Linked DNA regions of Homo sapiens. The protein of the gene in region 1 interacts with the protein of each later gene in a biochemical or structural test. Each region holds a gene or a part of one and is shown on either strand. Other genes may lie near its edges.

What was found.
Region 2: the proteins of CPAP (region 1) and CEP152 form a complex in vitro, tested with the Homo sapiens proteins (one study listed by IntAct).

What each region holds. Positions count from the first base shown.
Region 1 is NC_000013.11:24,881,740-24,884,862, forward strand, and holds the end of CPAP (centrosomal P4.1-associated protein), read right to left. Parts: intron 3,055-3,123; exon of another isoform or gene 2,964-3,054; intron 2,725-2,963; coding exon 2,584-2,724; intron 2,507-2,583; coding exon 2,422-2,506; intron 2,345-2,421; coding exon 2,224-2,344; intron 1,631-2,223; coding exon 1,438-1,630; 3' UTR 540-1,437; downstream 1-539. UniProt on the Homo sapiens protein: Plays an important role in cell division and centrosome function by participating in centriole duplication. Inhibits microtubule nucleation from the centrosome. Involved in the regulation of slow processive growth of centriolar microtubules.
Region 2 is NC_000015.10:48,766,057-48,773,096, forward strand, and holds part of CEP152 (centrosomal protein of 152 kDa), read right to left. Parts: intron 6,636-7,040; coding exon 6,431-6,635; intron 5,234-6,430; exon of another isoform or gene 5,164-5,233; intron 4,117-5,163; exon of another isoform or gene 3,229-4,116; intron 3,026-3,228; coding exon 2,900-3,025; intron 2,273-2,899; coding exon 2,163-2,272; intron 1,408-2,162; coding exon 1,279-1,407; intron 1,137-1,278; coding exon 1,004-1,136; intron 1-1,003. UniProt on the Homo sapiens protein: Necessary for centrosome duplication; the function also seems to involve CEP63, CDK5RAP2 and WDR62 through a stepwise assembled complex at the centrosome that recruits CDK2 required for centriole duplication.

The DNA.
Region 1 (3,123 bases):
ATCACTTGAGGTCAGGAGTTTGAGACCAGCCTGGCCAACATGGTGAAACCCCGTCTCTATATATCTAGATATCTATCTATATAGATACATCTATATAGATATATAGATACATCTATATAGATATATAGATACATCTATATAGATATATAGATACATCTATATAGATATATAGATACATCTATATAGATATATAGATACATCTATATAGATATATAGATACATCTAGATATATAGATACATCTAGATATATAGATACATCTATATAGATATATAGATACATCTATATAGATATATAGATACATCTATATAGATATATAGATACATCTATATAGATATATAGATACATCTATATATATAGATACATCTATATAGATATATAGATACATCTATATAGATAGATACATCTATATAGATAGATACATCTATATAGATAGATACATCTATATAGATATATAGATACATCTATATAGATAGATATAGATACATCTATATAGATAGATATATAGATACATCTATATATAGATACATCTGTACTTATATTCTTCAAAAAGTTTTATTTTTCATATTCAGTTAAGTCACCTGGAATTGATAGATTTCATTAACAAAACCTGATTCATAGTATATGTGACAGGTAAGGTCTATCTAGACCAATCTGTAATTATTTATTATATAAATTTACAAGTAAGTAAGTAAGTGACTTGCCCATCCTTCAGGGACATCTTGCTTCCATGAGGCTACAGTAATCTCACTGTGGTAACATCAGGGTAGCTGTGGTCCATGGGTTAACACTGGCTAGTCATCGTTCATGCCCCCCTCCACTCTCAAGTATCCCATTTTGAGACATTACATTACAAAGTCAGCCTTGTTATAACTGCTTTCTCTTCACCATGATTACTACCTGTTGTGTGTGACCTATTTATATTCATCCACTGTTGTAACTTCCCATTCTGTTATAATAATTAATGATCCTCTGTAGAAGATCAAATGGTCTAATTTTGGTACTAACTGAACATAGTAATATTTTGGCTACAGAGACACGTGTTTACTCCTTGAGTACACCTTCTGTACAAGTCCAGTGCTCTACGGCTGATGTGTCTGTGGGACATCTAGGTGATGTACTTCCTGTACTTCTTGGTTTTTTTTTATAGCCATTTCTAACCAATAAACACACCCACTTACTGTAAAAACCTGTACACAATTTCTAAACAGTCAAAATGCTTTCCTTAGTCTATTGAAAGACAGGGTAGTGAATTATAAATGAGAGCTATCATTGCATTTCAAAGAATATAAAAATGAAGATGCCACAGGGTAAACTTTTATTTTAGAATCTAATCTTTTCCCCACACATACACAATAAATTAAACAGAATCCACAGTAAATGTACATTTTTTAACATAAAAAGTCAGTTACTGTTACTTCATGATCACATGAGGATCGTCACAGCTCCGTGTCCATTAGCACATTACCCTCCTTGTCCTTAACTCTTATCCGACCGGATCTGTACTTCGTTTCTTGATGACCGTTTGCATATACGGTTTTAACAGTGCCATCTGGGTATTCCCGTCTCTTGAACTGGGCAGTATGTAGTTCTCTTTGGCCATTATTAAACTCTATGAGTTTGTTGCCATCACTGTAAAATTTAAAAAAAATATGATTTCTTAAAAAAAAAATAATAGAAAATAAACAACAGAAAAACTACTGAAAAGTAGCCTTTTGAGTCTGGCAGCTACTTCTGGAGACATCCCTTGGTTATCCCTATACAATTGTAACTTTCTACAGTGTTTCTGCTTCATGGTGATAGTTCCAATTATCAGATTAGCATTGTTTTAATCATTCATATTTTCATCACAAAATGCTTAGTAACTTTTTTCAACTTGTGTTCTTCCTTTTGGTTGTTATATTAAAAGGGACCCTTCTTTCACTAATTTAAAAACCATCTGAGTGTTTGTTTGCTCTGTATCAGGTGGGGAAGAGAGTTAGTTATTCCTGGGAAGGGGCATGATCAGACTTAAAAATCTGTTTTGAAAGAATGGAACAAAAAAGGAGAATGTGAAAAATAATTCACATCAAGTTGACTGACATGCCTGTGGGACATTCATTCAAACTGAACCCCCTAATATGGGTGTCACATATCATCAGAAACGCAAGGCTGGGGCACCTTCTGAGCACAGATGAACAGGTGTCACACTGAGTGGTTTTTCTGTGAACATAATGTTGCCATACCGTTGTACTCTGACAATTGTACCATCTGGGAAAATGCTTTCTTCTTGTCCATCAGGAAATAAGTTTTTAACAGTCTGGTCAGGAAACGTGATTTCTTTTCTTCCATCTGGGTAATGTTTTTCTGTTTAAAAAGTTGTTACAGTAAATATTTTTTGAAGGAAGGGAAGAATTTAATGAGAGGGTGGAGCAAGTTTGTACCTATTTGTCCACTTGAGAAATGTAAGACTTCCAGTCCCTCCGGGTATGTCGTGTGAGTGGTCTGGGCAGCTGCATAGTAGTAGATCTGTAAAGACACACAGTCAGTCTGCCTTTTCTCCAGAGATGGTTAAACTATGGAGGAGAACACCTCTGGAAACATACCACTCTTTGGTCTGGCATGACCTGCTTCACGTCACCATTAAAGAAAGTGACAGTGATGGTCTTCCCATCTGCACTCACTTCCTTTCGAGTTCCATTGGGAAACAGTATAACACGGCACCCATTCTTATAAACCTTTTCCACCTAAAAAACCAACACAAGATTATCACCTAAGATTTTCTCCTGACGAAAGTATGGCTAATTCTCCTCCCAACTGCCTACTTTGAAATTTTTTGTAATAAAATGTAAAACATTCCCTCAAAAGATCCTTTATTTCGTGAGGAGTAGCAAACTCGTGATTTTCTAATTTTCTCATTCCTTTTCCATGTATTAGCTGGAATTTACCTAAAAAAGAAAACCTTCCCTTATCAACAATTTGTTACCCTAAAGTAGACTTTGTACAGGAAAGTCTAACTACTGCTTTGCCTGTTGTTCTTTGTCCTTCTCTCATTCCTCAAGGATAGCACTCCAACCCTATAATTTCAATAGAAATGGACCAGATTAGGTATTCGAAAAGTAAATTTTCCATAAACCTGAGGAAAA
Region 2 (7,040 bases), on another chromosome or scaffold:
TTTCTCACTTTTATACTGCCATCCCTACCTAAAACAGCTCCCTTTAGAAGTTCTTTTTCCACTAGATGATATGTATACATGGCACATTTTTCACCATATTAATCTATTCAACAATAATCAAGATATTGAATGAACTGAATTCCTCGCCTGCTCTTTACTATTCTTTTTAAGTGTGTGGTAGTAATAGCTTGCTTTAACATAACTTATTCAAAAACCTCTGTATAGAACATTTATTTAAGCATTTAAAAATATTTTCTAATCTTGAGGCAGATAGCTTTCAAACTGTGGTTTGCCGCTGGTCCAAAGTGTGAAGGACAGTCAGGCCTGTTAAGGCACTGGGCCAGGACAGGGAAGAAAAGAGGAGGTGTGACTGTTTACATGTGATTTTACTCCTGGACACTCACCAAGAGTGACTCAGAAGAATCAGGCAGAGTTGGAGAATCTACTCTAGCCCCTCCAGCTTCCCTGAAGGAGGTCATACGAAGATGCTGACCTTGCTGTCCATATCCTCCATATCATCACTTTCCCTATCACGAGACCAACATTCAAATTCCTACTCTTCTCCCCAGAAGAATAAAATGACAATGAGGTAGTGAGAAAGAAATGGATCCGAGAAAAAGGGCTCTGAACGAATGCTCCGTGCAGCGCTCACAGGACTACATAGGGTTTCCTGAACAGTCAACACCGAAAATGAGGATCTGTGATTTTCAGATTTAAAGTGACACTGATCCTTTTTTTTTTTTTGCCCTTTAGAATAAATCTGCAAGAAAAAAAAAATCACTTTCTCCTATCTATATGCCATTGTACATTAAGGTTTTAATAATCATTTCAGTAATTACTGTATTTTATTTGTGAGCTATATGAGTGTGATACAGCCAAAAGTAAAGAGAACATATGAATACCTTCTCCATTCACTTCTCTAGAACAAATGTATTCGTTTAAATGATAATACTGAGGCTTGAAGAGTGAAAGGATGTCGATACAACATAAACTTGTACTGTACCTTCTCCTGAGTCTGTTGCTCCTTTTCAGTGGTCTTCCTGAGAGTCAATTCTAGATTATCCTTCTCTCTGCACACTTCTAGGTAACATTCCTGCACAGCAGTCACCTCCTTATTCAACTTATCCAACTCAGACCTTGGATACACAAAACCAGCAACTAAATGATTTAACCACAAAAAAATACAAGAGCTGCATAACAAACAATTTTCCTCTAAATTATGGAATAGGGGAATGTAGTCTCTACAGCTTAAAAGGCAGCTAAACTCTTTATTCTCACCTCAGTTGCAAATGAGTTCTCTCATAAGCCTCAAAGAGCTGCTGCTTCTCCAAAGCATGCTTTGCTAATAGGCTTTCACGTATTTGAGTTTTCATGGCTTCATGGTGCTGCTGATAAGTCCTTTCACACCTGGAAACAGAGCGGAATCAAAGGCAATGCCCAGTCTCACTACGAACACCAAAATGAATTGGTTTCCTTCCTTCCTCCTCACCTCTTCCCTCTAATGCAAATTATAATTGAGGTCAGATAACTTTTCCCCAACTGAAAGTGGTAATAATTAATTAATAACCAACAATCTTATGAGAATCTTCAAAATTTTCTTTCTTCAAATGTTTCTAGAGAACAATTAGAAACTTGGATGTGAGACTGCCCCAGTCCTTCAAATAGAGATAGTAATCTATGTTGAGGACTTCTGTTTATAAAAAATTAATGGCAATAATTGAGGGTGTGGCTCCAAAATTTCAAGTCATCTATATTAAACACAAATACTAGCAGTCCCCAACTCACAAGTAAGTTATGTTCCAGAAGTCTGTTTCCAAGTTTATGATTTGGTATTTGGAAGACATATTCCCTCTCACAGACTTTTTTCTTTATAAAGAATAGTTTCCCAGACGAGTCTTTAAAAAAATATTAACCTATAATATTTCAGTGAACTACAGTTTCAATGATACTATAGAACCCAACCCACTACATAACACTGTTTCTATGGAAAATGTGTTCCAAATTCTAATTTGAGAAGCCAGGGACTCATCTCTGCCAATCCAAGATCTCAACAGGGTAGAAATCACTCAATCATTTTGAATCTTTTTGTCACAGGGAAGGGCAGGGACTTAGAGGGGAAGGGTACCCAGGAGACAGTCGTCAGGCATCTATATAGACCTTACCTATCCACAGCTTCTTGTTTGTCATGGTCAAAATCTTGTACCATTTGTCTCATTTGATTACATAAGTCTTGATTTGTATTTCTCAGTTTTCCTTCAGTTTCTTTAAGTTCCTAGACACAAAAGAATAAACTTAGTACTTACAGAAAATAAACATCATTTTCACTGATTGATTTTGTCTTATTTTTTAATATTTTCTATGCTTTCTCTCTCCCCTATAACAATATTTGACATATTATTTTTACAATTCTGCAAAAGAAAAAGTCTCTTCACGCTTTGATAAGAACATAGATTCATTTATTTGACAAGTAGTTTTCTGACAGGACTAAACGTTTAAATTTTGTATTTACTTTGAAATATATAAAATGAAAATATTTAACCAGAGAAGTATTGGCTAGCTGATGCCTTAAAATAAGTCTCAGAATTCAATAATCTTCAGCAACCATCTAAATAAGCAAAGTTTTACTTCTGGGTCAAGAGCTGGCTAAGGAGGAAAGAATACCTCTGTCAGCCATGCTACCATAGAGAAAGAGAACTGGAACTACACTAACTTACCTTCCAATGAAACTACTAACCAACAGTTCACTAGCAAAGGGAAGTAACTGGAACTCATAATCACCTGCTAATATACTTGTCTACTAACTCACATTGCCTCTTTATTTGCAAAAACTCTATTATATCCTTTGTATTTAATGAGGAAATAAAAATTCTCATAAAATATAAAAAATATTTTTAATCACCTGATTTTGTTGTTGTAAAACTTGAATTTCATTTTTAAGCAGCAGAATATCATCTCTGACAACATCAGAAGTAGAAGACTCAGGCCATAATTGATTCTTTGGTTTTTCTGAGGTATCTGTTTTAGTCTGAATATTAAAAGGTCAAAAGTTTTACAAGTTTTAAAAAATTCTAAGTTTCACTTTGAAATACTTCCATACTTTAAAAAAATTGCAAACAGTACAAATAATCTCCATATAGCTTTTACTCATCTTCCCCCAATATAACTACAGCACAATCATCAAAACTAGTAAATTAACACAGATGCAATACTATCAAGTAATCTACAGACCTTATACAAATGTCTCCAATTTGCCCCAAATGTCTGTTTTCTGGTCCAAGATCAAATCCATGATTCTGAGTGGCATTTAGTTGTCATGTTTCATTAGTCTCCTCCAATCTAGGACAGCTCTTCAGTCTTTCAAACCCATGATGTTTTCTAAGAATACTAACCCGTTATTTTGTGGGATGTTCCTCAATTTGGAGTTTTTAGGTTTATTAAAATCAGGTTATGCATCTTTGGCATGCATGTCAAGAACTGATATGTGCTCTTTGCAGGAGACACATGATATCACTATGTCTCACCACTGGTAATAATCAATTGAAGGTGGGATCTGTCATCTCCATTGTAAACTTACTATTTTTTGTTTTATAATAAATGATAAGTATCTTATAGGATACTTTGAGACAATACAAATATCCTATTTCTCATCATATGTTCTCCTACTAAGATCAAGCATTTATTCTATTTCTGTATGTATTCATTTATGTCAGCATTCACTCACGGACATATATTTTATTCAATACATACAATTTTTAAGACTCATGATAGACTTTGGCGAATTGCCTTCCAGAAATGTCATCCAAATGTATACTGTCAGGTAGTACATGGGTCTGCCCATCTCTCTTTGCCTCCAATGGCAGTGATTATCTTTAAATAATTATCTTTGATGGGAAAAGAATATCTAACAATTGCTTTCATTTGTATTTCTTGTGTCACCACCAAAGTGGAACCTCTTATATACCTTCATTGTTCATTTGTTTTTCCACCTTCCCAGATTTATCTGTTCATTTAACTTTGCATATTTTCCTCTGAGAGTTTTCCTTATCTACTTTTCTTTTTATTCATTGATGGGGGTTACAAAGATTTTAAAAATATATCTACTCCGTTTCACTTGTTGTGTACCTGGACTCTGAGCTCTTTGCCACAACACAGTGGCTCATCCTTGTAATCCGAGCACTTTGGGAGGTGGAGGTGGGCAGATCACTTGAGTCCACAGCTGAAGTAACTTTGAGAAAAATTGGAGTTTAGATGTACACTACCGAGAATTCACTATGGCAATAGAGTAGCTGGACAAAAAGAATACTCAAAGATGAGATAGTTATTCCTTTGATCTATTGATCAACCAGACTACAGAGGAAAATGGGAAGGCTAAAAAACAGTACAATGCATGACCACTATCTACTGCTACACATGATAAAGTGTATCTGTATAGCAAATGCCATTAGCAAGTTTAATACAGAACAAAGAAAGCACCAAGATATCTGAGCTAAGGTTCAGACTCAAAATCAGGTTTCTAGTATCCTAAATCCTAGAGCACTCCCACCAAAATGCTTAAACTAATAAACTCTAATGTCTTAATGCAAATTGAGAAACAAGCTTTCATTCCCATCCTTTTAAAGAAATGTAGGGCAACAATGAAAACAGCTTGATTTAAAGATGTTAAATGTGCAGGGGGCAGGGCGGGGAGGAGTCTCTCTCATTTGCTGTTAATATTAAAATCTATGTTTTAGTCATCAAATGTAGTTACTCAGAAGAGGGAATCAGGCTGGAAAAGATTTTGATAGCAAAAACACTGTTTTTCCAAAATATAAAAATTAACCACAATCAAAATTCCACAATAATTAGCACAGAATATTATACATACTTTAGCAGAACTGTTCTAATGAACACAACTCCTAGTTTAAATAGGAGATAAAACAGTACTAAAGAAGGAAGTAAACAATTATCTCCACCCAGGAGGAAAAGGAGTATACTACCCACATTCCTTTTCCCTCTTCTTTTGCTTTTCTTAGTTATTAGGTGTTTTATATATTATTTTCTATTGGGAGTATAGATGGCTGATGATTTGTGAAATATGGAAGGGTAAAAAAAAGGATCTATAAAGGAGAGCAGCCCTAAAGATCTCTGTGATAGCATGATCTTACAGAAATATCTTTGACTTACTTATTAGTCATGTGTTTAGTTTCAATTTGTCTGAAATTGGCTCTGTAAATTCAAAAGTGTCACAAAGTGCTCCAGCTTCATTTTCCGAACTGAAGAATACAGAGGTGGATTTCAATGACTGACAAAACCAGATTTTGTGTACTTTCCCATAGTACCACGACCACTATATAATATCTGTACCATCATCACTATATAATTAATGTCCTCATATAGAATGACTTTTGTTGTAAGAACATGGGCCAGGAAAATCTCATAGAAAATACTACAGGATTTCTATGGAGGATTTATTTTAACTAGATTTTAGAGCACTATTGGTAAAAGCCAATCTTAAAGAAATGCAGATTCCTTGTTACAGAGAATACTTCCTTGTATTTATGGTAAAGGAATTTTACCTAATTGGTATCTCATTTACTAGGTGCCAAGAGTAACCAGAAAAAACATACAGATGCTTTTCAACTTACAATGGGTTTATCACCTAATAAAATCATTATAAGTTGAAAATATCATTAAGTCAAAAATGCATTTAATGCATCTAACCTATTAAAACCATAGCTTAGCCTGGCCTACCTTAAATGTGCTCAGAACACTTATAATAGCCAACAGTTATGCAAAGTCATCTAATGCAAAGCTTCATTTATAATAAACTGTTGAATATCTCATGAAATTTATTGAACACTGTACTGAAAGTAAAAAACAGAACTGTTTTACAGGTACTTGAAATATGGTTTCTACTGAATGCACATAACTTTTCCACCACTGTAAAGTCTAAAAATTGTAAGTCAAACCATCCTAAGTCAGGGACTGTCAGTATCCCTTTAAAAATGGCATTTCCTTCTTTAAACTTTATTTCTAAAAATGTCAAATAAACTCCTGAAAGCCAAAGGTTTATTAATTTAAAAACATGTAAAAGGGCTGGATGTGGTTAGTCACACCTGTAATCCAACACCTTGAGAGATTGAGGTGGGAGGATTGCTTGAGCCCAGGAGTTTGAGACCAGCCTGGGCAACATTGTGGGAACCTGTCTCTACAAAAAATTTAAAAATTAGCCAGGCATAGTGGCGTGCGCCTGTGGTCCCAGCTACTCAGGAGGCTGAGGTGGGAGCATCGCTTTAGCCTGGGAGGTTGAGGCTACAGGGAGCCATGTTTCCACCACTGCCCTCCAGCCTGGAAGACAGAGTGACGCCCTGTCTCAAAAAAAAAAAAGTGTAAAAGTTTTCTTTATTGAGCCTTTTAAAAATGGTTTTTTAACTCTATAGGCTTTACATACCTCAACCTCAATGCTTTTTTCATCCTTCTTCACTTGGTGGAGATCTTCAATTTTCTTATGACAGTCTTTGAGGTCATTTTGTAACTGAGACACCAGATGACGCTTCATTGAGTTGCTACCCAGCAAACGCTGTACTTCTGCCTTTAACTTCAGAATGAACTCATCTTTTGAAAGCTCTTCATTTGGGTCTTCTTCTTGTACAATGCTAATGGAGAAATTGTGATTTTTAACATTAAATCAAGTAATAAATCAGACATGGTTATTCCCTAAAAGCACTGACCACAGTGGTGAACATGTTTTGTCACCTATACAATTATATACTAGTATTTCAAAACAATTTTAAATGTTGTCATACACAAGGATTATCACCTTTGCCATGTCTCTATATACAGAAATACGTTTATTCACAGGAAGAGCCTTCTCAAGCTTAGTCCTGCTGCTCACTGTAAGTAGCTTAGAAATGTGAACTTTGACATAATTTACATTTGTGTTATTGGAAAACTGCATGCTGTATATACATGCCCTTTATGACTCTAACAGAAACAACATAAATATTAAGGAAGAAAAGAATACTAAACACTAGCCATCCTAACCAACAATTTCTGTTATT